Regions from separate parts of the Homo sapiens genome. Here all the other regions are linked to region 1. Evidence: fine-mapped expression QTL. A gene starts in region 1. Each other region holds a variant in brackets. All regions are shown on one strand. Distances are between the middles of the regions.

What was found. PIP is the estimated chance that this variant, and not a neighbour inherited with it, causes the effect.
Region 2: its variant is fine-mapped to the expression of IFIH1 in whole blood (INTERVAL, PIP above 0.99).
Region 3: its variant is fine-mapped to the expression of IFIH1 in nasal epithelium (TOPMed, PIP above 0.99).
Region 4: its variant is fine-mapped to the expression of IFIH1 in whole blood (INTERVAL, PIP above 0.99).
Region 5: its variant is fine-mapped to the expression of IFIH1 in whole blood (TOPMed, PIP above 0.99).
Region 6: its variant is fine-mapped to the expression of IFIH1 in whole blood (INTERVAL, PIP above 0.99).

The regions. Positions count from the first base shown.
Region 1 is chr2:162,315,477-162,320,625 of GRCh38, reverse strand. It overlaps IFIH1 (interferon induced with helicase C domain 1), which reads left to right and starts at 1,942. Exons shown (of 16, transcript NM_022168.4): 1 at 1,942-2,771. The coding sequence starts at 2,319. It also overlaps a transcript of GCA not described here. RefSeq lists enhancers at 710-1,909, 1,478-2,027 and a silencer at 2,058-2,147.
Region 2 is chr2:162,079,410-162,084,558 of GRCh38, reverse strand. No RefSeq gene overlaps it. Among named protein-coding and RNA genes, the nearest start is that of DPP4-DT, 7.1 kb to the right of the region's middle. The variant G/C (reference allele first, on the strand shown) is at 2,245.
Region 3 is chr2:162,291,362-162,296,510 of GRCh38, reverse strand. IFIH1 (interferon induced with helicase C domain 1) reads left to right here. Exons shown (of 16, transcript NM_022168.4): 4 at 2,843-2,947. Among named protein-coding and RNA genes, the nearest start is that of IFIH1, 25 kb to the left of the region's middle. The variant C/T (reference allele first, on the strand shown) is at 2,050.
Region 4 is chr2:162,212,481-162,217,480 of GRCh38, reverse strand. It overlaps FAP (fibroblast activation protein alpha), which reads left to right. Exons shown (of 26, transcript NM_004460.5): 10 at 1,480-1,583; 11 at 3,408-3,543. Among named protein-coding and RNA genes, the nearest start is that of FAP, 28 kb to the left of the region's middle. RefSeq lists an enhancer at 3,200-3,369. The variant T/A (reference allele first, on the strand shown) is at 2,694.
Region 5 is chr2:162,275,922-162,281,070 of GRCh38, reverse strand. IFIH1 (interferon induced with helicase C domain 1) reads left to right here. Exons shown (of 16, transcript NM_022168.4): 8 at 959-1,075; 9 at 2,743-2,866; 10 at 3,378-3,656; 11 at 4,125-4,384. Among named protein-coding and RNA genes, the nearest start is that of FAP, 35 kb to the right of the region's middle. The variant G/AG (reference allele first, on the strand shown) is at 2,866.
Region 6 is chr2:162,266,183-162,271,331 of GRCh38, reverse strand. IFIH1 (interferon induced with helicase C domain 1) reads left to right here. Exons shown (of 16, transcript NM_022168.4): 14 at 3,055-3,245; 15 at 3,763-3,853; 16 at 3,953-4,258. The coding sequence ends at 4,132. Among named protein-coding and RNA genes, the nearest start is that of FAP, 25 kb to the right of the region's middle. The variant G/A (reference allele first, on the strand shown) is at 3,246.

The DNA of each region.
Region 1 (5,149 bases):
TATTATTTGAGAACAGGTCAAATACCAAACATTTGATCCTTTCTCTTCCAGAGCAACAATTAAGTGGTATGAAGAAAATAACATTAACTGGTTCCCCATATTCAGTCAGCAACCCCTTCTCATTCCCCCATGTTTGAAACCAAGAAACAGAAGGATAAGTGCCAGGAAAAAGAATGTTTTTTGGTTTGTTAGTTTGTGCTTTAACATGTTGAATAAAACCCACTGGCAGCTGGGGGATAGGAGTATGTTTTTGCAACAGCCTTAAAAGATATTTTCATAGACCCAATACTTAAAATTAATAATTTGAGTGCTTTTGTAGAAACATCTAATTGGATTATCCTCTATCTGGGTACAAGGTCATCTCCCAAAATTAAGTGAAAAAGGAGTAGGGTTCTGTGAAGAAACAGAAAAGAACAGTATAAATCAGGCCTACCTGCAAGCCCAAGGTTTCATTTACTTCAACTTTCAGTGTATTTAACATTATGCCAGCTGCTATGGTCAACTCAAATACAACTCCCAGGAGAGATGTCATCAAGAGCCCACCAGTTGTGAGTAGTGTACTAGTTACTATGTAAATATATCCCTTCTTCAAGCAGCTTACAATCCTTCAGGGGTAGAAAAAGCCTTGCTACATAAGATAATTAGAGAATAAAATAAGACATGTTACCATAAAGTGCTCATTTGGATATTTTGTATGCCCCTAGTAAACACTCACCAAGACTCTGTACTTCTATTATCCTGTTCAAAGCACTATCAGGTTTTCCTGGCCTACACAGACTTTATTGAATGTACTTTGCTAACAGATTATTTTTCCTAAATATGTCTCTTTGATAACCTAAATGATCTCTCCATCCTTTATATAATTCTGGACCATGAGATTCTAGTTATGGTGCGTATGTGCCTACCACCCACAGTCACATGTGGCTACAGAATGCCTTCAGAATGAGTAGTAACCTTAAGGACTCACATTTATGTGGCTTCTGTACCAAAATGAAGCTGCCATTTTTCAGTGTGAATATGTTTTTTTTCTCTCATGACATAGACAAATGTTGATGTTTACTACAAGTTGGTACATTAGTTGCTAATTAAGTTCCTAGCTGCTCCAGCCAAAACTTGCTGTATTGAATCCAAGAAAAGAATGGCAGCTATATCAAAAATAAGTTGTTGGGGGATTTTTTTGTTTTGTTTTATTAAAGGAAAGTTGTATATTAAAGAATATAGGGAACTTACAAGCTGGGATCTAGGAAACTTTAAGTCTTGGCTTCCTTCTAAGCTGAGTTGGTGGTTCAAGTCCATCCACATCTGTTACCAGGTCCTGGTCAAAGCTGCATAAATACCAGCAATCTAAATATGAGGCAGTAAAGTTAACTGTTTATTGTTACTCACTTTTTCGAACCCACCTCCAAATTCCCAGGGAAACAAGTTAGTGTTTGGGAACCCACAGGAGGTCAGGTTTATTTTAGGAAGGACTTCCTCCTGTCTTCTCCACATCTCTGCAAAGATGTCTTCTGAGCTTCATCTCTCACCTGTCCCTCGCAGTCTCACCACCCTCAGCCAGGCCTGCCTACATTCACCAGCCGAGGGTAACTCCCTGTTCACGTCCGGGTCTGTGGCAGTTTCTGTTCACTTCCCCTTTGGAAAGTCCCAAATCACATGCTTTTATGCCCTGCACATTTTGGCCTACAAAGGACCTTATTGTTAAGGCAGAACCTGCTGGGAAAACAAAATATCCGCCGGAGGAGCTTTGCTAGAGCGTTGGTCTTGGTGTCAGAGAGAATTCGCTTTCCTTTTCTGTTTCCCGCGGTGTCCTTAACCAAAGGCCTCCTCTCTTCACCCGCCCCGACCAAAAGGTGGCGTCTCCCTGAGGAAACTCCCTCCCCGCCAGGCAGATTACGTTTACAAAGTCCTGAGAAGAGAATCGAAACAGAAACCAAAGTCAGGCAAACTCTGTAAGAACTGCCTGACAGAAAGCTGGACTCAAAGCTCCTACCCGAGTGTGCAGCAGGATCGCCCCGGTCCGGGACCCCAGGCGCACACCGCAGAGTCCAAAGTGCCGCGCCTGCCGGCCGCACCTGCCTGCCGCGGCCCCGCGCGCCGCCCCGCTGCCCACCTGCCCGCCTGCCCACCTGCCCAGGTGCGAGTGCAGCCCCGCGCGCCGGCCTGAGAGCCCTGTGGACAACCTCGTCATTGTCAGGCACAGAGCGGTAGACCCTGCTTCTCTAAGTGGGCAGCGGACAGCGGCACGCACATTTCACCTGTCCCGCAGACAACAGCACCATCTGCTTGGGAGAACCCTCTCCCTTCTCTGAGAAAGAAAGATGTCGAATGGGTATTCCACAGACGAGAATTTCCGCTATCTCATCTCGTGCTTCAGGGCCAGGGTGAAAATGTACATCCAGGTGGAGCCTGTGCTGGACTACCTGACCTTTCTGCCTGCAGAGGTGAAGGAGCAGATTCAGAGGACAGTCGCCACCTCCGGGAACATGCAGGCAGTTGAACTGCTGCTGAGCACCTTGGAGAAGGGAGTCTGGCACCTTGGTTGGACTCGGGAATTCGTGGAGGCCCTCCGGAGAACCGGCAGCCCTCTGGCCGCCCGCTACATGAACCCTGAGCTCACGGACTTGCCCTCTCCATCGTTTGAGAACGCTCATGATGAATATCTCCAACTGCTGAACCTCCTTCAGCCCACTCTGGTGGACAAGCTTCTAGTTAGAGACGTCTTGGATAAGTGCATGGAGGAGGAACTGTTGACAATTGAAGACAGAAACCGGGTAGGTGTCTGTTCAGATGGAGCTAGCCTTTTAGGCAGATTTTGCAAAGCAGGCTTCCTTGTGCGTTTGCCCCTTTCCAAATGTGCTTGACCTCTTTGGGCAAATCTAGTTTCTTCCTTTGAGAAGACAACATCTAGGCACTTTAAGACAATTTTAAAAATTTAAACACAAAAGAACTACTTTTCTAATGTTTTCACTGAAGTAAAAAGGAGTTAACTCTAGAATCGTAATGTGTATTAACAGGTAACTTTTATTGAACACTTACTATGTGCAGTTGGTATCATTTTCAAAATGTATTACTACAGTTCATGTTCAGAGTAACCCACTGAGGCTCCTAATGTTATTAACTCCATTTTACAGATGAGAAACCTGAGGCAGGTTAAATAATTTGTCCAAGGTCTCCCAGGAAAAACAGTGGCAGAGCTAAGAATTTAGCTTGTGATAGTGTTGAATGTTTTTCTTATTTAATGTAGTTCCATGGAGCAGGGGTTAGTAAACTACGGCCCATGGGCTAAATCAAGCCTGCTACTGTTTTTTTCAGGCCCACAGGCTAAGAATGGTCTTCAGATTTTTCAATTTTTAATTTTCAGTGTTCATAAAGTTTTATTGGAACACAGTCATGCTCGTTTGTTTACATATTGCTTGTGGCTGCTTTTCTACTCCAAAGGCAATTGGATGGAGACTGTGTGCCCTTAAAGCCAAAAATATTTATTATCTGGCATTTTAGAGAAAAAGTTTTCCAATCTTTGCCCTACATTACACTTTGTGCCATTTAGTCTTAGCCCAAATGGGTAAATTGCAATCACACACACACACACACACACACACACACACACACCCTTTTTCTTTAATCAAAGTTTCAACATTCTTTGAGAATCAAAATTTAGAAACAATTCATTGAAAGAATGTGTTGCTAGTTTCAGTTTTTCATGTTAGTGAAGAAACTCATTTTTCTTAAGGTAGCATTTTGACAGGGCGAATTTTACTGATGACTTTACATTGAATGTGATATGAATTATTTTTTGATAAGTGAAGATGTACTGTGATGTGTATAAATGCTGACCTGTTTGAATGTGACTTATTCAGGCTCGTAAGTCAAAAGTCTTGTTTTGGAAGACATGTAGACAAATAAAGCCATGACTAAAAGTCAAAGGCTTTGTCTACACCACTCTATGATTTTCACATGGTTTTTTTCTCTCTCTCTCTTTTGGGTCATCCATTGTTTGTATATTCATACAAACTTCTGGGCATTTGATTGATTTGCTATAGCCTATGATGCAATTTAGTCTTTAGTGAATAAAGTTAGTGATCTTTTGTAGACTTGACAGACACAGGGCCTGTCCAAAGACCCAAACATGCATCTAATTTTGATGGCCAGTTTTCCCAACAAGTAAATTACTTTGCACTGTTGTCTGTAATGTTTATGTCGTTTTGTGTATTGAGAACCAGCTAGAACGCATTATAGTAGTCCAGCTGGATATGACAAATGTGTACATCACTGTGGCAGAATCTTAATTTGGAAGAAAGTATGCAGCCTTCAAGCCAGCTGGAGATGGAAGATGGCATTTCCAGCCACAGTAGCTGTTAGAAGTCCAGAAGCAACAGAGTCCAGTAACACCACAAAGCTGTTTATGTTTGGTGGGTATGATGTCCCGATTGCCAGCGAAACAGCACTTCTCCCTATTTACTCTAAATACTTCTGCCTATCAGCATCACTTTTGTCTTGCCTGGATTGAATTTCCGCCAGCTAGATTTTATCCAAGTTCTTGATTCTGGCAAGCTTGGAGGCAGCTAGCAGTAATGCAAGGGATTTGACACAAAGAAGATATAGAGTAACGGGACTTTTGTGTACTGGTAGCAGTTAAGGCCAAAACAACCCAAATTCTCCCTCTGATTCACATTTCAAAGGAGGCCCCAAAAGACTGAGCAGCTATAAATTTGAGGCTCTCTAGGAAGCAATAGTTTCTCTGTGAGAGTGTGGAATAATTTTTGTGTGCATCATTTACATGTATTATCAGTTCCAAAACTAAGATATGGTGGACAATGAGACGGAAGCATTAAGTTTGGTAGAATAATCTATATTGAGGTGGTGGTCATTGACAAATGTTTATCTTACAGCAGCAAAGTGTGATAAGACTGTAGAAGGGGAACACATGGATTTGAGGTCCATCTTGGCTTCTTACTATATGCGTTACTTTGGGCCAAATTACTGAAGTTCCCTGATGCTACATTTACCTGTGAAAATGGACATCATAAAATTTCTCACAGTATTTTAGTCAACATCAAATCAGAAATAGTGTTTATGAAAAAGCTTATAAATCAGAGCTATTTGATATGATAATGGTGTTGACTTTTGTAACCATTCATCTGGTTACATT
Region 2 (5,149 bases), 240 kb after region 1:
AGACAGGGGAAATGAAGGAATGAAAGACATGGCATCCCAAAATATGCCAAATTGGTATATTGATTATTTCAAGTTGAAAGCATTGGGAGAATTGTAGCCTCAGTAAGGGTTAGTTGGCCTGTCTTTTCCTGCTTGTGGCAAGCCATAGATTCCTCTGGGAAGAATATTTCTTGTTGGAGCAAGAAAATAGAAATATTTCTTACTGTGGGAGGAATATTTTCTTACTGGAGCAAGAAAATAGCCCTTGTCAACAGAGACTGGTGATAGGAGGCTGCAATGAACCTGAATAAACATACTTAATGAAGTAGTCCTTATCTTCCAGTAGGTTTACACCCTACCCTCATGTATCTCCTAGTGACTCCCCTAGAAATGTACTGCTCTTAGTCAGATTCCCTTTGTCCTGTGATTTCTTCTCAGATTTGTCATTCTTTGTCTAAAAAGTATGAAAGTATCTTGCTTTGGCCACTTCAGACTTCAGTCTCTTATGAAGATCCCCATGTACATGAAAAACCAATAACATCTGTTTACTTTTCTCTTGTTAATCTGCCTGATATCAATTTGGTTTCTAGATTCAGCTCTATGGCTGAATCTAGAAGAGCTACATAAGAGCTACAGGGGGGTTGGAGGTGATCTCTGGCTCCCCTACCCTGCCACCACATCTAGCCCATGTTCACAGCTTGGAGAACACTAAGGAGGAGACATCATTGTAGCTACAGACACTTTGTGAGAATCAGGCTCCATGGGTTTCAAACACGTTCTCTTCATTAAGTCATATTTTTTTTCTTAAGTCAGGGGCTAATATAAGCAAATTCTTCAAATTAAAAAACCCACAGAATATCCAAAGGATACCATCCAAAGAGGAGCACAAAAGTGCCCTTACCCCTTGGGTTGGTTCTAGTCTGAAAGGTAGAAAAAGCACTCCTTTACGGAGTGCTGAGTGCTAGAACAATCCCTCATTTGGTATTACTGATAATTGGGGCAAGGAAAGCACCATGACCATAGCTGAGAAAAAGTTTTTAGAGTTATATTTTAACAAGAATAAATAAGCATGGTTTACATGCTTGTACAACAAACTTTGCAGAGAGGCACTTACCCAATTAATTTTCTAAGACCAAGAGTTTACTGACTCTCCCCCCAGTTTAAGTTCTTCCCTTTCTCATTCCATCCAACAGACACTATTGCCTTTTTTTTTTTAAATCTGAAGTATAAGTCTGATTGGGTTTCTTTCCCAGGTAAAATTTTAGTGGCTCCTTGGTATATACTGAATATTGAACTTAAGACAAGAATATGTTCATGACCAACTTTCATTTCCCAATACTTTCTGGAATACTCTATATCCTGGCAAAATGCAAGTAATACATATTCCCTAAAGATCTTCCAGCTTTCTTACTCAAGCCCTTATGTGTGTTATCCCTTGGGCCTGAAACTTCCTTTCATCTATCAAAATCCATAGGATGATCTAGCCAGCTAGTTGTCATCTATTAATACGTATCTCTTTGTAGAAATAAATTTTGTTAAAGGTTGGTTCAACCTGGAACACAAGCAGGGTAATCTTCTCAAGTATGGTTGGTAGGGAAAAGAGAAAATAAAACAGAAACAGACGGTGAAGATAACCTGGAAGATGTGAGACTTGATCTTCAGTCCAAAGGATATGAAATGTGGGGTTTGGCACTAAGGCAGCAGGAAGTCATTCCCACACAGGTAGAGCAGCGTTCTCTGATTAGGTGGAGGGCAAATGTCCACTGATCAAAGGAACAAATAAGTACCCTTGTATTGTCCTTTACATAACCTTCAGAACTGAGGGCAAGAAGTAAATCTGTTCCTTTCCATCCCTGTTCCCCACCACTCCTCACCTCCCCACCCTCCACCCTGCCATCTCTCCACATATGAGATCCTATTTCTTTCTGTCTTCTAGTTGCAGCCCCCAAGAACACAGAGAAAGATTTGATCTTAACTTTTCTTCAGTTATCATTTCATTTTTTAATTTATTTAACCAACAGTTACTGACTGCTAATATATTTAAGGCACTTTACTAGGCACTGGAGAGAATGATGGATGAGAAGATAAAGGAATAAAGGGAATGTTTCCAGTCTCCATAAGGAGATAGTTTAGCAAATAATAAGTACTATATGGAGTTGCCTGGTTATGTGGCTCTTTTTCAAGTTCCCCCTCCCTCTATCCATTCTCCACCCTTCTCTTCCCTGCATTGCACAGCCTTGCAGGTTGATCCCTGAATATACATTT[G/C]CTATTAGCCAGGCTCCTTAGCCCTCTGTCTTTATTGGGCTCAACAGATGGGAGGAACGAGCAAGATACTGAAGGGAGAGAAGAGAAAGAGACTGAGGTATTTACTCCTTAAGCTTTTTATCTGCTTTATTGTGCTGCAATCTGGCAGTGGCTGTATCCCTCCAAGGCTAGAGTTCACCCTAGGTAACCCCAACTCCAGGACTCAGGTTCTCAAAAGGGGATATTGCCATAAACAGTGGCAGGAACAATATGATAATCAGGGCTTTTGACTTCTATGGTGGTGGCTCATTTATCACGAGATACTTAAGAATGAAGTCAATAGGTAGCATTCTAAATTATAGCTTGATTTAAATGATCAAAAGAATTCTAGGTGTAATGGGCAGAAATTTGACTTAAGTTTTCATAGTAGTAATAAATGGACTCTCATCAAGTTCTCAGACTCAAAGCAGTTAATAGACCCAGAAAACCTTGTTTGAAATGGAGGTCAGATCTTTTTCAGGAGGGACTCTGAAATGCTGTCACAGTACACACCTGACATGTGACTTATAGCCAAGTTTGAAAATGCCCCATGAAAAGGGACATTCTCAGACCTCCCTGGAGTTATTAAATATGGGCCCTGGGTTTATGCCAATTTTGATGGAGTTAAAAAGATCACTGTTGTCCTGCTTTATGTTAAGTTTCCATCTGCTACAGTAACAAGTTACCATAAACTGAGTGGCTTAAAACAACATAAATCTATTAACTTACAGCTCTAGAAGTCAGAGTCTGAAATAGGTCTTCCTGGGATAAAATCAAGGCATCATCAAGGCTCTGTTCCTTCTGGAGGCTCTAGGGGAGAATCTATTTCTTTGCTTTTCCCAGCTCTTAGAGCCTGCCTACATTTCTTTGCTCATTTATCCCCTGACCCAGGAAGGGACATTAAGGTAGATAGGAAAGACCAAGTGGAAGACCCTGGTACTGTCCCTGCACAACAATATGGAAAACTAAAAGTAATACTGCATCTCTAAGTGCAGAAATTAGTGCCACTACGTAAAAATCTGAAAGATGCAGAGGTGCTATTTCCCCCATCCCATACTTAATTAACTTTCCCATTTAGCTTGTGCAAAACTAGGATGGATTATGGAAAATAACTCAGTTGCCATTTCAGATGTTTAACTTTACTGAATCAAACAACATGGACATCTGAGCTGTTCACCTGCAAACACTTTTTTCCTTGAGTCAAATTAGTAAGAAGTATCTAAAATACTTTGCCTTCACCTGGAAGGAACAGCAGTGTATTTTCACTATCTTACTCCAGGGATATGTCAAGTCTTGCTTTCTGTCATATTAAAATCTCCCAAGACCTTGAGCATCTTGCCATCCCACAGACCCACATTAGTCCACTGCATTGATAACTATGCTACATGGACTTGATGAACAAGAAGTAGCAAGTTCCTTACATGCTTTAGTAAGACAAATGTGGACACAGGGTAGAGAATAAAATCCGTGGAAAATTTGCAGAGTTTCAAGGGATTCAGTGGTCTGGAACATGTCAAGGTATCCTTTCTAATGTGAAAGACAAGTCACTACACCTTGTACATCCACCATGAAGAGGAGCACTATTTGCCAGAACTCTTTGGATTTTTGAGACACCATATACTATGCTTGGCTATACTTCTCCAATCATTTACTCAGTAACTTTAAAGGCTGCCTGTTTTGAATGGATCCTGAAGCAAAAGAAGGCTCTGCATGTTTAGGCTATAGTGCAAGTTGTACTTGGATCTTATGACCTAACAAGCACAATACTTATTTAAAATGTATGTGGCAGCCGGAGACACTGTATGAAGCCTCTGGCAAAACCCAGTGAGAGAATCACAGAAGATATATGACTCTTAGAGAAAAGTCATATACTCTTTGCCAATTTATTAGTTATCTACTGTTGCATAATAAATTACTTCCAAAACTTTAGGGGCCATCTTGGAGGCTGCCTACAATAACCAGTGACAATTCACTACTTAAAAAGTGGCATCTCTCTTGCTACTGGGATCCTGTAGAGACTGAAAGCATGATCATGGATCAAGTATATTCATTCATTCACTAGGGCTGCTATAACAAAGTACCACAAACTGGGTGGCTGAAACAACAGAAATTTATTATCTCTCAGTTCTAGGAGCTATAAGTCCAAAATCAATACATCACAGGATTGGTTCCTCCTGAGGACTATGAGACAAAGAAAGATCCACTGTAATATGGTTTGGCTGTGTCCTCACCCAAATCTCATCTTGAATTATAGCTCCCATAATTCCCATATGGTGTGAGAGTGACCCAGTAGGAGGTAATTGAATCATGGGGTACAGGTCTTTCCCATGCTGTTCTCATGATGGTGAATAAGTCTCATGAGATCTGATGGTTTTATAAAGGGGAGTTCTCCTACACAAGCTCTCTTGCCTGCCACCATGGAAAATGTGACTTTGCTCCTCATTTGTCTTCAGCCACGATTGTGAGGCCTCCCCAGACATGTGGAACTGTGAGTCAATTAAGCCTCTTTCCTTTATAAATTATCCAGTCTTGGGTATGTCTTTATTAGCAACGTGAGAACAGACTAATACAGTAACCTGGTACCAGGAGTGGGGTGCTACTGTAAAGATACCCAAAAATGTGGAAGAGACTTTGGAACCTGGTAACAGGCAAAGTGATATGGACAATAAAGTCCAGGCTGAGGTGGTCTCATGCAGATGAGGAACTTGTTAAGAACTGGAGCAGTGGTGACTCTTGCCATGTTTTAGCAAAGAGACTGGTGGCAGTTTGCCCCTGCCCTAGAGATTTGTGGAACTTTGAACTTGAGAGAGATTCTTTAGGGTATCTGGCAAAAATTTCTAAGCAGCAAAGCATTCAAGAGGTGACTTGGGTACTGTTAAAAGCATTC
Region 3 (5,149 bases), 24 kb after region 1:
TGCCCCACTGTAGCTGTGTGATCTGGATATATCAGTTAACCTCTCAGCGCCTTGGTTTCTCACCTATGAAACAGGAGATAATATGTATCTACCACACAGAATGTTGAGAGATTAAAATGAAATTTACATTACATCTGTGAAAACTCTGAGTTCAGTGTCTTCCTGACACATTGGTGATTGGTTTGTTAGATCAAAATAATCCAGATAATAGACTTTATTAATAATACCCTATTTTGGGTAGCAACTTTTAAAACAATTCATCAATTATTCGTGCACATTGCATAAATAGCTCCCTCCCAAAACTTACGGATGTTAGAACAAAGCTTGGGAGAAATCTTGACTCTACATGTAGATGAAGTAGGTTTAAGATTAAAGTTTAACTGCTAGTGATTAGAAAATGAAGTGGAAATCAAATATAATTTTCATTTTTATTATACTTGGAAAATTTAATGATACAGTCTTAGATTTTAGATATTTGTTAGTATTTTTTCAGTAATTTTGGTATTCTCTTCAGTTCTCAATATTACATTTAAAACAGCAAATGAAAAGCATGTCAAAATTCACTTTTTTGCCTCAAAAATCTTAGCCTATATTTCTAGATCTAGAATTACTCTTGCAATGACATTTTCCCCATCTCATTTTACACCTTGCCTTTTCCTTACAAATCATATTCTCTTTTCATCAGTACATCTGCCCAAAACGCTCTTCTACTTGACAGTTCTATCCCACATTCGCCTCTGAGCTTCTAACAAGACATACCTCTGGGAATTGCGAGGTGCCATATTTTAAATCTCTCAGTGAGATATACAGGTTTTCCCGTGTGATCATAAGGGATTCCTCAAATCTGAGTTTTAGAACTAATCTGCGACAACTGATAAGCACAGTATTTTCACATTAGTATATTTATGTTGTGCTAATATACTTAAACAGTATGTATGTCCATTGAGAATTTTTCTACAAATTTCTTATCAGCTTACTTTTAATTTTTAAGAAAGATACCTTACATATTTGATTGGCATTGGCTGTAATTCTGTTATAGCTCTTAAACTAAATAGGCTCATCCAAATTGGATGGGAGATGTAAATGTCACAGATTCTCAGTGGAATACTAGTCAGCAATAAAAAGGAACAAATTAGTAATACACACAACAACGTAGATGAATCACAATTACTATAAACTAAGTTTTAAAAGACAGACATAAAGGCTACATATTGCATGAATCCATTCATATGACATCCTGGAAAAGGAAAAACTATTGGAACAGAAACCAGATCAGTGGTTGCCACTGGTTGTCTGATGTGGAACAGAAACCAGATTAGATAACCAGAGGGATTTACTACAAAGAGGCTTGAGGAGACTTTTGGGGTGCTGGAAATACCTTAACTGTGATGGTAGTTGCGTAACTGTATACATATGTCAACCTCTTCAAAGTTGCAAAACTGTATACATTTGTCAAACTTCTCAAACTATAAACATAAAAAGTAATCTTTTTAGTAAGTAAATTATATCTTAATATAGCTGACTTGAAAAAATTAACTACTTAAGGAAAAAGGAAATATTTGCAGTTTTGAGTTGTATATCATCTCTTTTCAGAGAAGTTTTATTAAAACATACTATGTGTCTATTTTTTCATCCATTTTTATTTCCAGCCATAAATATGACACTCAGACTAGTTTTAAATAGCTAAGAGCTACCTCATTGGTGTGTTAAGAGGCTTTAGGATGAAATATTATCTAAGTATAAATATTATAAAATATTTTTAATTAAAAGAAGAACATTATCTAATGGAACTCCTATCCTAAGAATATATCATTTCTTGATTTTTATTTCATTTTCTAATTGCCAGCAATTAAAGTCCTGTGCCAAGAGCTTGTTGTACCTAATATTACTTAAAGATTATCAAGGGCTGTGAAGTAAGTGGGATTAGCCTCACTTTAAAACAAGGGGAACTTGTTAGGTTCAGAGCAAAGTGAATAGCAAATTTTGCAAGTCCTTCTGATTCCAAAGCCAATATTAGTAACCACCATTGCTTTATTTTTACCAGTTTAA[C/T]GATAGTTCTGGTGCTTGAGGATGAGGTTGTGTAAGTGTTTGGAAATAAACTGTAAGAAAAGAATTCTTCTCTGAGGGAAAGAAGGTTTTCAAAAAGAATTGATCCTGAGTTCTGAAAACAGAATGTCAGGATTCATAAATGAAGGATGTGCACTGCTATTCATCCATATTAACCATAACTCTTTGATAGAGGCTTAATCTAATTATAGTAAAGAAAAACAGTTATTTCCAACCTCACATGAGCTTCTAGTACAACTGTGATGCCAGGCTTTAGTGATATTCTTTTTGAACAAATTCTCTTTGAGATTTTACATCTATGTTTATCACCAAACTATCATTTTCATAACTGATCAGTAGATCCAGGTACTTTATTAATTTTTGTACTTTATTAATTCCCTATCATTTTAAATGAAAAGACCTCAAAGGTTTCTATGTATTATTTTTTGTTTAAAAGACATATCAAACCTAAATAGTGTTTTCTTGGGCAACATTTACATGTAGAAGGGCAATAAAAGTTATAAACCCTTAGGAATTTGCTTTAGCTCTCATACTGGATGTGTAGTACTTTAAGTAGGTAATATGTATTTGAATCACTACCCAGCAGCTGCTCATCCATAGTGGATTTTTCTTAATGTAGCCTGCCAGAAGCGCTTACCTTTTATTCATAATTGTCTGGGTGTGCCTTCCCCACTTGAATTGAACTGTATGTACTGTGTGCTGTAGAGGTGTGCAGTTAAAATACGTTTATTCTCAGAAATATTTTAAAAATATTTTAAAATGTTTTCCTTTGCAGAATCAGACACAAGTTTGGCAGAAGGAAGTGTCAGCTGCTTAGATGAAAGTCTTGGACATAACAGCAACATGGGCAGTGATTCAGGCACCATGGGAAGTGATTCAGGTACTGCCTAACTGTTGTGTAAACCTTAAAAAGTGTGAAATAAGACGCCATATAGTGGAAGCATGGGGGCTGTTCATACCCTCCCTAATGTATTTATGCAATTAAAGCAATTCTTTTCTACAGTGAAATAGTTTTGGAACTTTGCCATTCACTTTCTTTAAAAGTGTAACTTACAAACTCTTAGAACCAAACTCTCTAATTTTGATCCAGTACATATCTTTCTGGTCTGGCATATGCCACATTCCATAGAGTCATGTCATCTATTTTATTTATGGGATCTGTTTCAATTAATTTGACTGCATTTAAATAGACTGTATTCAATTTGGTACATTTATTTACTTCCAAATTCTACTTTTTAAATTAAAATACTTTTTAAATAAAAAATTGATACTATCAATAAGAGAAGTATGACTAACTAGAAATTACATATGTAAGTAAAAGAAGTCAAGTTTGTATAAGTATCTTTTGAATAGGAGTAGAGTTGGCAAAATATTTCGGTCACTAAATGAAAATTTTACCAGGTTTTTCCCAAATTACTTTCAATATCAGTTGTATATTCCACCAGCAATAAATGAGAGTGCCTCTTCCTAATTCCCCACACCTTAATTATTACTTCCTGTTATCAGTTTTCCAATTTGTTAGTCTGATAGATTTCAAATTGTTTCTTTCTTTTCTTTGAGTGTATATTTCCATGATGACTACTAAGCTAAAATGTTAACATTATTAAATGTAGGTGATGGGTTAGTGGGTTTCTATTACATACCTTTCTATATTTGCCTACCTGTTTGAAGTATTTCACAATTAAAATGAACAAATCACAAACAAAAATAAAATGCTTTGCAAGGGGCCAGCTAAGAAGCATTGGAAAAATGATAAATTAAGAAACACATTACTTTATTCTTCATTTGTGATTGAGTTGTTTCCCCTAAGAATATATTATATAATTCAGATTATCCTGCATTGTCAGAAGAATTATAAAAATTGATATCCACAAGAGGCCTAAGGTGGCAAAATAGTTTATAGAAAGATTGTCATCAATCCTAAATGCTTTCCAAATTAGATTGTAGCACCTCTTTTTTCATATATCCTTTTATCACAATGACACTCCTGAATCCCTTAGAACAAATTAGTTTGAGGAAACCCAATTCACCAAATGTCATTCACAACTTTAATCTTCATTTAAAAGGGTGAATTCATTTTCTGTTCAATTCAGTCAGTGTTTATTGAGTTCTTGCCATGTGCTTATTTCTGTGGATTATATTTGTTTTTTCTATCCTTGTCATAAAATTGTTCAATTTAATAATTAACATTTCTATTACATGCTATGCTAGAACTCAAAATAGATAATCTAGCTAATATTTAACATCATTATAGGTTGTTTTAAGTTTTTGGAGATCATGCTAATTTTCATTTGTCTAAGTAAGGGCTTTTCAATAATATCCATTCATTCAATAAATATTTAATGTGTACCTTCTATGTGCAGGGCATCTTGCCTATTTAGAGCTGTTAACAAATGTATTTGCTGATTTTTAGTCCTCAATGTGGCATGAAACACATGATAAGTCTGAACGCAATCTACTTTTGAAAAGCAAATACATTTTCAAAGGCAAATACATATTTGAAGACAAACACATCAGAACGAACACCACTTGAAGTTCTAGATGGATCAGTACTTAGGAGCAAAGAATTACTTTGCCTAGTGGGTAGTCAATTTCCGAAATGGTAAAATTATGAAATTCCTTGCCCACAAGTGCCTGGTATAAGCTAAAATAGAAACCAATTCAAAAGGAGGTTTAGATAAATTGGTGAACTGTTAAACACATATTGAGGCACTGAAAAGTATTATAGAATTTGCAATTGTGTTTTAATCTTTGAAGTTGACATCAAAAGGGACTTCATTCTATATGTCCTTCCTCCTCCTCCAGAGGTCATATATGGGCCATAAGGTGTGACCCAAAACAATCATATTATATTCCTTTGTGGAAGTGTTATGCCATAGTAGACATGATTACCGGTACTTTTAAAGTATAAATATTCTAATTATATTATGAGAGGCTTTTTTTTTTCTGTTTCCCATTTTCAGAAAGATATATTGCCTCTCAAAAAGTGGCAATGTTTTTGGCAATACATATTGGCCTGATATGTAGAAAGTGTTTCCTTACTATTTCAAGATAATGCCTATTAATATTTGTCCAGCTGGAA
Region 4 (5,000 bases), 100 kb after region 1:
GTTTTTGGATATTTAACATTGTAGAGTTGTTATACATTCTTTTTATTGAGTTTCACATCTGGAGGGAGGAGACCTGAGTGTGCAGTAGGAGAATGGTCAGGTCTCAGTGAAGAAGCATTATATCCTAATTTCAATGTAAAAATGATATCAGAAAAAATGGAATCAAAGTACAAATTTACCTCTTGCACAAGGAATCGGATGCGATTTTAGAATTCACTTCTTTGTTCTTTGGATGCTATTGCTTTTACTTGCCAAGGGGAATATTGTCGTGGCTGGACACAGTGGGTCCCTGGGTGACAAAGACGGTTGGATGTGGTATACACACAAGTGAATTCTAAGCAAGCCAAAGTGGCCATAGAGAAAGAAATAGAATTGCAGACAGTGTAATATTTATGTTAAAAGTCTAAAAGCTGTGTAAAAACTCTAAAAGCTGGAGATGTTTGGGACAGGCCTCACATTTTGGGGGAACCCAAGATGTAAAAGAACTCAGATCTTTGGGAGGACCTATGGGAGCAGGAAGAGACGGGGAACCCAGAACTGAAGAGTGACTGACACTGATTGGGAAGTTGGGACCCACATTCTCATATTTCCTTGAGGCTTAAGGTTGCTAAAACATCTGGCGTTAGGTGGAGACGTGAGACCATCCCAAAAACTAAGGGAGTTTCTGATAAACTTGGGAGTGAAACGGAGGTCCTAAGAGACGTTGAACAGTTCTTTGGATGAATTCAAACAGCACTGAGTCATTACATACTGTGCACCTACATTTCATGAATTTAAATTTTATTACAACTCCAAGATTCTCTCTTTCTACAGCAAAATAACAGAGGAACTCTAAGAAACTGTCTAGGTATGAGCTATACTGTCATGTAAATTTTAAGCATACAGTAGTATAGAAAGCACAAAACAAGAAAAGTATAAATCTCATGGATACTTCATTTGGAGGTGAAATTTCCCTAACCTTTTGGAGATGGTGGCAGTAATAATGCAAGCAGGTAGGAGACTGAGCATTTGGTGATTGTCCTAGACCAAATCATATGGCAAAAGCAAAAAGTGTCTTTCATTTATTTTTCTTTCCATTCTCCTCTCAAATTAATCACCCTCTGAACTCTCCTTGGTATACAGATTATTATAATTATCCCAATAATAAAAATGAGAGAGATCTGTCTTGGAAATCAGAAAACAGAATATGGTTCACAGAACTGCATTTTCATATCCAAAATGATTTTCCCTATAAATTTTAAAGCTCTCTCATTAGGCAGTTAAAACACATAGTTTTGCTCTGGTTGACACAACATTTGTAATTGCCCTGCAGGTAAAATTGAAATGAGATTCCTTGTCGTGTTATAAATAGAATGTATTCCACAGTGATATACATAAGATTGTTCGCTTAGAAAAATATATCTAAATTCCTAAAGTTTCTTTAAAATGTTGGTGATAATTGGAATTTTATGAGCTTATATATCTCAATTTTCTTGGCAGGCTGGAGCTAAGAATCCCGTTGTTCGGATATTTATTATCGATACCACTTACCCTGCGTATGTAGGTCCCCAGGAAGTGCCTGTTCCAGCAATGATAGCCTCAAGGTAGTTCATCTCAGATCCCTCCCATCTTTCTATCCTATATTCTAGTGCATTTATGCTGTGCATGCTAGAAGCAAAAACAAATAAGTAGATAAGAGTTGCACACAAAGCTAAAGACATACAAAATTAAAATTGACAAATAAGTTTCCTTAATTGGTTTTTCAAAATTAGCCCTTTTACACATATAAACGTGACCTCGGTGATCAATCTCAGTGAAACTTGCCTCAGATGTACAGATGTGAACTTGGGACCAACAAGCAGACAGTAAAATTCATGTACGTCCTCACCCTGGCTTCTTTCAAGTTTGGCTGACTTTATCTCAAGCCAGGGTTTGTGGATCTATGTGGATCACATGTGTATGATAAATAAGAGAAGATAAGCTGACCCTCTCCAAAAATTAGCATTTTTCACAATGAAGCAGGCTATTCTCATTTATCTGGTTTTAGAATTGTCTAGAGATGAACTGTAGGCAGGCAGGGACGTGAAGGATTCTCACTTCCCCAGCATGATGCCCTATGTCTGATTGTCTGACTAGTCCAGAATACAGTGACCTTCAGTCAGTCCTCTGTGGTCTTTCTGGTTGAAGTGGCTAAGGGGAAGAGGTGCCCAGGCCCTGCCTGTTGGGCTTTCTTAACAGTTCCCCATGCCTAGCGGGCCAATCTTGGGTCTTCCCCTTCTGCTTCACGAAGAAGAGCCAAGCTCAAATGACTGATCACTAATAGGGAAAAGAACCCCATGAGAGGCTTCTACTGGGCCTTGCTGAGTCCACTCTTGTATAATCAAACATGACTTTATATTTTTGAATTATCTGCTATTCCCCACCCTGATCGAGTCGATGAAAACTTGACTCAATACATCATTTTTTTTTAAAGTGTCATTCTCCACAGGTGGCAGATGAAATGAGCATAACACAAGGAGTCCAGAGGCTTGTTTGAACAGCTGTAAAATACTAACAATAAAATAGTAGTAGCAAACGTATTCTGAACACTCATCATGTAGCAGACATAGTTCTTAAGCGGTTTAAGCACGCGGCCAATCTTTACAGCACTCTTTAAAATAGGTAATATTATTATTCTGATTTTATATAAAAATAGAAGAGTTAAGTAACTGGCC[T/A]AAAGGTATATAACTATTAGGACATAAAGCCAGGATTTGAGCCTGAGGTCCCTTCCAGCTTTGTGATTTCCTTTACATTAATTTTCCAGAAGTTTGTGATTCATTTTATGTTGATGTTCTCTACCTACTAGTTCATGCTCAGAGTCATGGAATCATCGTTGCCATTCACTGACATCTAGTATGTGCCAAACATTATTTGAGTTATTTCGCATACATCATCTGTGATTTATTCCACAAGTCTGAATTTCAATACCTGACCACAGTCACAGCTAAAACTTAGCTTCCAACATGAATCTGCTGAGAGACAAAGATTATCCTTTTATCACACTTGTCTCTCTCTCAACTAATTATAAGGTGAAAAATTGAGTTTACTTGTGCAAAATGCAAGTTTAATGCTTTTTTTCCCCTCTAGATTGATCAGTAGCTTTGACATTATGTTTTAAATTCTTTTCTAAAATGTTAAAATCCAGAAACGGGGAGAAAACTCACATATGAAATGATTTCATTAGATGAAGAAACTCTCATAGATATTTTTTTAAGTAAGTAGAGATATTTAAACTTTCTCTCCAGAGAAAGGAATGTTTTGTCTTGCTTACCTATTAAATAAGTAATGTATAATAATGACATATATCCTTTAGAAAACAAAAATTAAGAAATTATTTGTGTGTGAAACTGGTTTATGGTTGTGACTACCTGTTTCTATTTTATTTGCAGTGATTATTATTTCAGTTGGCTCACGTGGGTTACTGATGAACGAGTATGTTTGCAGTGGCTAAAAAGAGTCCAGAATGTTTCGGTCCTGTCTATATGTGACTTCAGGGAAGACTGGCAGACATGGGATTGTCCAAAGGTAGGGTATATTAAGATCACAGATACGTATTTCTGAAGATCAAGGCACAATAGTGGGGACTCATCCATAGCTAACATTTTATGTTGTAAAGCCAGGATTACTGCATTCAACTGCCAACTGCTTTGCAAAAACACACTCAGTATTCATGGGTCCATCATTTTATTAAATAAATAGGATACCTTTTATTTTCTTGAATGACGTAAACCTTGAAATTGAATAGCCAAAAAGAAAAAATGGGACAACATGACATTGGGAAAATCAGATATCTGGTTCTCAATTATAATGGTAAACCAGCCCTTTGAGATTATAACATTGGCAGTCCAATAAAAAGCAAAATAATGCAGATGAAACCGAAACATGGGTCTACTAGATAAATATATATGTTTTAAACAAAAGAACCAGAGAAGAAATGCAAATGGGGCATGTTCTATTCAATGTTAAAAATTAAAAATTAAAAATTCTAAAGGAAATGGATATTATCAAAAGAAAGCCAGATATTCTGTTTTTTTTTTTGTTTGTTTTTTGTTTTTTTTGTTTGTTTTTTTGTTTTTTGTTTTTTTTTTGAGATGGCGTCTCGCTCTGTCGCCAGGCTGGAGTGCAGTGGCGCAATCTGGACTCACTGCAACCTCCGTCTCCCAGGTTCAGGCGATTCTCCTGCCTCAGTCTCCTGAGTAGCTGGGACTACAGGTGTGCACCACTAGGCCCAGCTAATTTTTTTATTTTTAGTAGACACGGGGTTTCACCATGTTGGCCAGGATGGTCTCAATCTCTTGACCTCATGATCCACCCGCCTCAGCCTCCCAAAGTACTGGGATTACAGGCATGAGCCACTGCACCCAGCCCAAATATTTTTATTTTAAAATCAAATGAGAATTACTGAGAATGTGACATAAGATATTAGATCAAATTATTCTGTTACCTGGTTATCTTAGGACAGTACCCGACATGTACTAATTTTGGGCAGAAAAAGCCTTTAAAACTAAGCACAGATTTATTGTTGAGTTTTAATTGTTTCTATTACTCAAACTCAAACATAATCTGTTGAATTAATGAGTCAGAAAAACCACTTAACCAATGTATAAGCTTTAAAATAAGCCTGTTCTTAATTACTCACATTAGAATCTAAGAGATACAAAATATTTTCTTTAAATAGGATATTTGATGGGTACATTTTGTGAGTCTTCTAATTATGAAGAAATGTTTCATTAAAACAAATATAGAATAATCATATTTTATAAAGTAAAAAGAAAAGCACAGAACAAACAAAGTAAATCACTAAATTTCATCTAGAAATTAGGACATTATGTTTTGCAAGAAAAAAGTCATATGAGTCTGTTTGGAAATATATCAGGACTATAATAGTCAACATTACTCAGGCTAAAAATATTTCTTTAAATCACTACTGTGTCTGTGAGAGGCTCGACTAATTTTGATGGAATATGCTAGAAGCGTATTTT
Region 5 (5,149 bases), 40 kb after region 1:
TTCTTTTGAACATCTACTCTTATGGTTAAATTTAATGATCTACCTGATATAGAAATATGCATAAACTATGAAAGTTTCTAGTTGTCACACATAATAAAGTCTTACTCCATGAGTTTCAAAACTGCGTATTTTCTGTCCTTCATATGTTATTCTAGGAATCTAGGTAATTCAAATTAAAGGGAAATAGGGATATGAAGATCTTTAAAGATGAGCTTGTCAGCTGCCCCCTAATGGTAACACCACATACAGTGCTACTGTTAATCTTGAGTGTTAAGTAAATCAGAGTAGCCCAAGAAGTATTTTGGTACCAAGGCAATTGCATTTGAATTTTAAGTCCCTTACTTTAAGTTGAATTCAATACAAATTATGTAGAGTAGACACAACATTCAGAGATGCAATTATAGGCTCCAAAATATAATTTATTACTGGGATTAAGGACTAATTCCAATCTAATAATCAAGGAACATGACTAAGGATGCTCCCAGCTTTATGTGTAGATGCCTGCTTTATGTGTAGAAGAAGGTGGTAGTATGATCCACGGATGTCAAGTTGACCTTTGATATGCCTCATGTAACATGGTTATCTCAAAATCATTCTCTGTCAATGATGGTAAATTGTTATACTCTTTCCATGTCAGTTTTCCACTTGGAAAATGGAATTTAAGGAATGAATATCAATACACCTTTTTCTCTGTTATTACACCAACTTGATTTAGAAGCTCCTTTTTCCTATATTAGGACAAATGTTGCTGATTGTGGGTTAATGAGATCCATAATAAAACAATGTTAAAATGCTATATTTAGCAAGCAATGCTACATATTACTTTCATGAAATTTTATACCACATATTTATGCTACAATTTAATGCTACATATTTTTTACATGAAAAAGAGTTCTACGTTGAATAAAGTGAAAGGGAAAAATAATTGCATAAATATTGAAAAATGTCTCTTTTCCAGCTATGTGCCAATCTTGATGCATTTACTATTAAAACTGTTAAAGAAAACCTTGATCAACTGAAAAACCAAATACAGGAGCCATGCAAGAAGTTTGCCATTGCAGATGCAACCAGAGAAGTATGGGCTTAATGTTTTATATCTATTGATTGACAATACTACATTCAGTAGAAAGATGGCAAAGGCTATTTTATACTGACCATCTGAAAAATATTATTTAAAAATTTTAGCAAACAAGTTTCAGGTTTTTTTTTAATTGATGTTAGGCAGTAAAGCACTACAGTGAATTCTCGCCTCTAGACCTCTTTTAGTTTTCTAATTTACATGAGGAATAGCTTATTCATTGTTTGTACATATGAGTTAAAAGGGACAGTGAGGGGCCATGGGCAGAGGGATGTGTAACTAAGCTGGAGGGGTTATGACAGTTCGTTTTAGCCTTTTTAATTTTCTTCGTGAATTCCAGGATTGATTTTCTGACATTCCACAGAGCCATTTTGTTGCTATCAAATTACATTTGGCAATGATAATGGGAATCCTATCTAATTTGCATACTTGCATATTTACTTTCTTAGGAAAACAGTGCAATGGTAAAGAAGTGAAATATTTACTTTAATGATGCTTTTCTGATGAATTTTTCAGGAATTATAAGAATAAACTGAGAGTCAATTTGGACATTATGGCCAGTAAATTATGTCAATACTTTATTTTGTAAAATTTAGAAAGCATTACAAATTCTGGCCATATGTACTTGATAATACCATTGAAAATAAGAATGTTGGGATCAAATGATATGAAATATGCATAGTAGATAAAACAATGCTTGAAATATAGTAGGCACTAAACCAATGTTAGTAACTAGCCTCCGTATATCTCTTTTTTTAAATTCTGAAAAAGACTGCTATCTACTCCAGCTGCACTAGCACAGTTGAATATATTTTATTCACTTTCCTTTTTTTGTTACTTATTTGGTTTTACTTGATAATTTTAAATGCATGTTTCTACTCATAAAGATTTTTAAAACTAAATTTCTCAGGTACATTTTTTAAAAGAATTTGCCATTTTTTAAACTTACTTTAATTTTTTTATATACCTTGAAGCATAACATACATACAGAAAAGTACAAATTCATATGTGTACTGATTGCTGAATTTTCCTAAACTGAATACACATATGTAAACAAAATCCAAATCAAGAGACAGCACACTGCCAGTATCCTAAAAGCTCCTGGCTCCCCCTTCCAGTCACCATGCCCCAGGAATCACTACTATCTTGACTTCTAAAACAAAAAATGAGTTTTCACTGATTCTGAACTTTATATAAATGGAATCATATAGCATGCACTCCTTTATTTCTGGCTTTATTCAGACTCTACTTCAACTTTTTATTTTGGTCGAAATAATACTGAAACCAGTTTTACAAAGGAGGAATGTTTCTTAAATTACACTGTAAGCTTTCTAAATAATTGTGGCATTAATGCAATATGTGTTTTCTAAGTTACCTTTAACATACAAGGTTTATATAATTCATTAACTTTACTTTTGTTAACCTTTTAAGTTGGAGATTCCAGCAGAGGTAACAGGGTGTTGGTGTGGGTGTGGCTTGATGGCAGGCTTAAAAGAGAAGCTGACAAAAATAAATGTACAGACAAGTGATGGGACACTAACCTGTTACTTTGTCTAAACAAAGATGAATCAGATTTATTATAACCTAGAAATTATTCTAACAAAGATAATGTTATTCCTTTAACAATAAGAATACATAAGAATAAGTGTGTACTTTATTTTTAGGATCCATTTAAAGAGAAACTTCTAGAAATAATGACAAGGATTCAAACTTATTGTCAAATGAGTCCAATGTCAGATTTTGGAACTCAACCCTATGAACAATGGGCCATTCAAATGGAAAAAAAA[G/AG]GTAATTTAGGTTTGGACCTAACACTTAGTTTATCCCATGTTTATACCAAGATTTTAGATGACTATATCACAGATTCCCCAAAAAATGGAAAGCAAAAGTAGTTCCAAATAGAATTTCTGTGTTCTCTGTAGGACAAGCATAATAAACATGTTCTAATTCCTTTTCTAAGGAGAGAGATTCCAATGCTATCCAATTTTCTCTTTGTCTCCAGAGTCTTGAGATAAACTTTAATAGCTCTGTCTCCAAAGGCAAACTCAACTAATATATTTTCATGCCATTTCTCTGTGCATCAGCTACATGTTTTTGCTGAGGCAGAACTCAAGCAGCAAGTCTAGGAGTTGGAAAACTTGCCCTGTTTCAGAGCTCAGGACACATTTTGAGCCTTAACTTGCCCATTTTAAAACCAAGGTGAAGCCAGTTTTGCAGTTAGTAACATATATTCAAGTCCATGGCACAATTTTAGGGGGTTTATATGCTTATTATTTCACTTACATAATATATTTTTTCACAGCTGCAAAAGAAGGAAATCGCAAAGAACGTGTTTGTGCAGAACATTTGAGGAAGTACAATGAGGCCCTACAAATTAATGACACAATTCGAATGATAGATGCGTATACTCATCTTGAAACTTTCTATAATGAAGAGAAAGATAAGAAGTTTGCAGTCATAGAAGATGATAGTGATGAGGGTGGTGATGATGAGTATTGTGATGGTGATGAAGATGAGGATGATTTAAAGAAACCTTTGAAACTGGATGAAACAGATAGATTTCTCATGACTTTATTTTTTGGTAAGATTCAAAGTAACATATACTGGTGTCATTCATTTACCTTTTCAACATGAACTTACTGCTTCTCATAAGCTCTCCAAAAAGAGAAATATCTTTTGAAAGAAGAAATCCCACTCAGATTGGAACTATTTCTAATGATATGACCAGATTAGCTACCAGTTGTATGATCACAGTCAGTCATTTGGTCATTCAGTTTTATTGTCAAGACAATTGTAATGAATTTATTTATTAAACCATCCTAATTATTAGATATAGCGCAAGATTGTAGATGAGCCACAATTCATGAAACCTTCTAGTGTAATTCGTTGTATGTTTTACTAATTTATACTTCCAAATAGTTTTTAAATTAATTAATTTTTAATCAATAAAACTGTATATTTTTGGTGTACAAAATGTTTGATATATCTGTACATTGTGGAGTGGCTAAATCAAGCTTGTTAACATATCAACTCTAATTATTTCTTAAAGAAAACAATAAAATGTTGAAAAGGCTGGCTGAAAACCCAGAATATGAAAATGAAAAGCTGACCAAATTAAGAAATACCATAATGGAGCAATATACTAGGACTGAGGAATCAGCACGAGGAATAATCTTTACAAAAACACGACAGAGTGCATATGCGCTTTCCCAGTGGATTACTGAAAATGAAAAATTTGCTGAAGTAGGAGTCAAAGCCCACCATCTGATTGGAGCTGGACACAGCAGTGAGTTCAAACCCATGACACAGGTATAAATATCCTTTTGGACGACTTCTTTTCTTTTCTTTCTCTTTTCTTCTTCTCTTCTCTTCTTCTCTTCTTCTTTTCTTTCAGACGAGGCCTCGCTCTGTCACTCAGGCTGAAGAGCAGTGGCATGATCAAGATTCACTGCACCCTTGACCTCCTAGGCTCAAGCAATCCTCCAGCCCCAGCCTCCTGAGCAGCTGGGACTCTAGGTGTGCACCACCACACCCAACTAATTTTTTTATCTTTTTTGTAGAAAAGGTGTCCCACTATGTTGTCCTGGCTTGTCTTAAACTCCTGGGCTCAAGCCATCCTTCTGCCTCTGCCTTCCAAAGTATTGAGATTATAGGCACGAGCCACTGCGCTCAGCCTGGACTTCTTTTCTTATGCTGTTATTACTCTTCTCAAATTGTTTTTAGTCTTTTTCTACCAATCCTCTCACCACCCATGAATACATTTACAGGATAAAACACCTGTTCTTGAAATAAAATCTAAGGCTAATAGCAATCAAATCTGTGGTTTTTGAGAGGTTAAGTGTTGTTTTAGGAGTCATTTTTCCCACATAATAATTGGAAGAACTTTCTAAGTTTCCCTTGCAAAAATAAGTGACATGTAAGCTTAACAACAAAGTTCAGAAATGATTGCCATGTAGTATCAAGTGGAAAATTCAAACTCCCACAAAAATGTGTTCGTTATAACTAGAACTATGCAAAATATATTTACATAGAATGAGACCTCTAGGGAAACTTGAAAAAACTAAAGAATTTGAT
Region 6 (5,149 bases), 49 kb after region 1:
TGGTTTTCAGTTTCATCCATGTCCCTACAAAGGACATGAACTCATCCTTTTTTATGGCTGCATAGACTAGATGGATACTTTCAACTGGGTGGTTGAGGAAGGTCTCTTAGAAGGAGTGACAGGGAAGCTGCATCTGAATGATAAGAAAATACAGAATATGTCATCTAGCTACATCTCAATTTACTAACACACAGTTATTTGAGTTGTGCAAAGGAATGCAGTGAAGAAAGAATGTATTTCTATAGTATTTCAGGAAATCCCCCATACCACTGAATTAAAAACTGTAACTACTATAATAGCAAACAATCCATTTAGAAGAAAATTCACACCCTTGCATATGGGTGTGAATGTTAGTTTCTTAACATTGGAATTGGCTCTACCTTAAATAGAGTTTCACTAAAGGGATGCTTTCAAATTGGTGTGCATTGCTATTACCAACTCCAAGGTTTCCTGACCAGGTTTCTGCACAAAACTTTATTTTAAAACCCCTTTAAATACAAGGCAAAGCAAATATTTTAGAGTATCAAATCAAACTTTTGTCACCAAATTATGCCACTGGAAAGTTACTGCCTCCCAGTTAATGTCCTAAGAGAATTAATCAAGTAGATGTTTACAAAGACTGATGTTTTAAGAGTAGTTTTTTGGGGGTCAACACTAGGACAATCTCTGGAGTTTAAGGGTCAAATTCTTCCAGACATTCTTTAGAATAAGACTCTGTCCCTTTGGGTGCCCCAGAATGGACTATATTTTTAGGTCTCCTTTGGCCAAGAAACCTGCCCTCCTAAAACTACTTCAGGTAGATGAACTTAGAGTAGGAGTGGCAATGGGGAAGGAGGGCTACATGCCACCAGTAATCTGTTCAAAGCCTGTAGAAAACATTGCTACTGGGAAGATGTTTACTTTCTTCTAATTTGAGCATCTTTCTCAACACAATCTTCAGACAACCACTAATGAATGATGAGAATTGACAGATAAGATGAAATCTTTCTTCCATGTCATAAACACAGTTTAAACATAACAGAGCTTCTTAAAATTAAATCAGACTTCTAGGAGCAAGTTGATCATCATAAATGTTTTTCTCTAGCATTGATTCAATTTTTTTGCTACATTATTACACTTTATTTGGACTTAGGCTGATTGTAGCTGTGCCTCCTGTATATTTATTATGAGTTCTTTTTTTTGTTTGTTTACCCCTCTAGTTACTTCAAATTCCTTTACTATTTTAGAGTTAGTCTTTTAGCTTCTGATGTCCTGATTACAAATCCATACACTTACCTTGGCTTTATTTTTTTTCTGACTCATTCATACACATTTCTTAATTCCCACATGTATGTGATCCTATAATTACCTTATCAGCTCATTGAACTGTAAATGTCTTATAAAAGTAACCTATTAAAACTTTTAGGGAAAAATATTTCAGTGTATTATTTTGCTATAATTTACATAGGAAATTAATCTTGGTACTTGTCTGATTAATCTATTATATAGCCTCCAGGCTTGCTTGCAAGGTTTTATTCTCTTTTCTATGCTATATATGGCTGCCTTGAAGGGAGATCTAAAATGTAGAGTTAGAAGCCAAAGAGATGGGCTTTGTTCAACTGCACTGATGACTTACTTTTACTGAAAATTTCTCCCTCGGTCTTAAAGAAAACAATTAATTCTTCCATAATTTAATATAAATATGTCATCTATGAGAGGTCAGTTTGGCGGTAAATTATTCAAGAACCAGATTTTTCTACCGTGAAGTTGTGTTGGTATAAACACTGTTCAGTCCCTATGTCAACTTTCATATGTTACATAAACTAGATTATTTCCATTATAAAATAAGTGCTGCTGCTAGTCACAGAGCATAGAATAAAGAGGTTGATGGGCATATTCTCTCACAGAAGGAATCTAGGCAGTATTGGCTCCATGAAGTTATGAGGAATCCAGGCCTTTTCTCTCCTTTTTATGCTGTTATAGCATTGGGCTTTCATTCTCATGGTCGAAGATGGCTTTTAGAATTTCAGCTGCCACATCCTCATTCTAGGCAGGAAGTAAGAGGAGAATGGAAAGGGCGAAAGGTACACATGCCAGCTATCTAATTTTTAAGAAGATTTTCTGAAAATTCCACTCAACAGCTTTTTACATGTCATTGACTGCTGGTTTGGAAATGTAGTCATTTAGCTAGCATATTTCCACCCAGAATAAAATTATGGTTCTGTTAGGAAAAATGGACACTGAATGAAAAACTAGTGGTTTCTGCTACAAATGTGTAAAGAGTAGACTGATTAAGATGGTGAAGGGTCTGAAAATTATAAAGCATGAAAAAAGATTAAAGGCATTTGGGTGCTTAGCATAGATTAGAGAAGACTTGGTAATGTAATAACAGTGTTTAGTAAAGAGATTCCATGTGGAAGGAAGTTTAGACCTATTTTATGGAACAGAATTAAAACAAATGGGTAGGCTGGCGCAGTGGCTCACACCTGCAATCCCAGCACTTTGAGAGGCTGAGGCAGGTGGATCACTGAGATCAAGAATTTGAGATCAGCCTGGGCAACATGGCAAAACTCCATCTCTACTAAAAATATGAAAATTAGCTGAGCATGGTGGCAGGTGCCTGGAATCCCAGCTACTTGGGAGTCTAAGGCAGAAGAATCCCTTGAACCCAGGAGATGGAGGTTGCAGTGACCCGAGATAGTACCAACACACTCCAGCCTGGGCAGCAGAGCAAGACTCCATCTCAATAAATAAATAAATAAATAAATAACAAATGGGTAGGCTAGACAGAGAATTTTTGTTGAATATTGCTAAGGACTTTCTCACAATAGAACTTTTCTGAAATGGAATGGGCTACTTTTTGAATACCTGAAGACTGCACATTTTCATGGTTACAGGAGATGATTATATACCAAATTCTTTGGGGGGTCATTACCTCATTATTTTTATTTCCTAGACCATAAGCTAAGGGTATATTTTCACAACTAAGACCTCCAAATTTCAGGAGACTTACTTCTATGAAACTGAAAAAAGAAAACAAACCTGAAACCACTAACTATTCCTTTCTCTGTCCAGATTTTGGAATTACAGATGCAAAGTATAATGGAAAAGAAAATGAAAACCAAGAGAAATATTGCCAAGCATTACAAGAATAACCCATCACTAATAACTTTCCTTTGCAAAAACTGCAGTGTGCTAGCCTGTTCTGGGGAAGATATCCATGTAATTGAGAAAATGCATCACGTCAATATGACCCCAGAATTCAA[G/A]TGAGTCCAGAAAGACCCATTTTTACATTTTTCCACAAGGGGTGAAGCAGGTTGCATTGTAAATGTTCTTTCAAAATAGTGCAAATGAGATTCATTTATTTTACAACTTCCTCTCCTTTAGCCTCTCAATTATATTCCTATTTTAAATGTCTATGTTTTAAATAAACTGCACTGGGGCAGGAAAAGAGAAGTGTAAGAACCAAAGCCATTTTGATCCAAGGCACGTATTTTTGTATGCTCATCATTTGTTCTCAAATTTTTGAACAACTAAAGTCAAGTTAATATAACCAACAGACTTGAAAGAAGTTATGAAAGGCAACATGCCCCTTGAGAGGTATGTGTAGAAGAGAAGCATTGCCTTAGTTGCAATAACAAGCCTGGGAAGCAGGAGGGAAGGAAGGAATGCCGTGTAGAATACCGCAGGCATGCGGATGAGCTCCAGGTCCAATAACCCATGAACTACACACTGGTATTTTGTCAGTTCTCCATGATGATTCTTTCCCTTTGATACTTATAGGGAACTTTACATTGTAAGAGAAAACAAAGCACTGCAAAAGAAGTGTGCCGACTATCAAATAAATGGTGAAATCATCTGCAAATGTGGCCAGGTGAGTAAATTGCTGTGGGCCAGATTTTACTTTAGCCAACAGGAATGTTTAATTGCATGTACATTTAATTTTCCTCTTGCTCTCTCTTTTGTTTTCCAGGCTTGGGGAACAATGATGGTGCACAAAGGCTTAGATTTGCCTTGTCTCAAAATAAGGAATTTTGTAGTGGTTTTCAAAAATAATTCAACAAAGAAACAATACAAAAAGTGGGTAGAATTACCTATCACATTTCCCAATCTTGACTATTCAGAATGCTGTTTATTTAGTGATGAGGATTAGCACTTGATTGAAGATTCTTTTAAAATACTATCAGTTAAACATTTAATATGATTATGATTAATGTATTCATTATGCTACAGAACTGACATAAGAATCAATAAAATGATTGTTTTACTCTGCATTGAACTCTTTTTAAGAACACAATATATTATGCATTATCCATCTTATTGTTGGGCAGAGGTAAGGAAAATCTACCAATAATTCTCATTAGTGTGGAGCATTATAGTCCTGTGGAAAGAATGCTGAAGTACAAATGAGAATCCAAAGTACCAGTCTCAGTTCTGTCACTAATTTTCAGAATAAAATTAGGCAAATCAGTTCATCTTTCTGAACCAGTCTCCTTATCGATGAAATGGTCATAACATTCTCTAGTTTTACTTTTTATTAATTTTCTATTGCTCTATAACAGATTGCCACAAAGGTAGTGGCTTAAATCAACAATCATTAATTATAACACATGTCCTGTTGGTCAGAAAGGCAGGGTTCTTTGCTCAGGGTCTCACAAAATTGAAATTGAGGTGTCAGCCAGACTGTGTTCTCATCTGGAGGCACTGGGGAAAGAATCCACTTCCAAGTTCATTCAGAGTTTTGGCAGAGTTTGTTTCCTTGCAGCTGTCTGACTAAGATGGCTGTTTTGCTGTCTGTCCACTGGGGATCGCTCCCAGCTCCAGCAATGCCCCTACCACACAGCATGCTCAAGCCTCTTTCCCAGCACAGATATTTGCTTCTTCATGGTCAGAAGAAGAATCTCTCTCTCAAGTCTGCTCAGATGGAGTCTTAGATAGGTTAACTGTAACCATAGAAGTGACTGTCTCATCATATCCGTAGGTCCTGCCCACACTCACCGCAAAGGGATTATTCAGGGAATCACCCCAGCCAGTGGGAATCGTGGGGACCATCTTAGAGCTTTGCCTCCTACATCACTTGCCCAGTCTTTGCAACTAAATGATATCATAGGAAAGTACTTTAAAAACTGTGAAGTACCATTAAAGACCAGTTAAGAAGCAGCATCAAGTA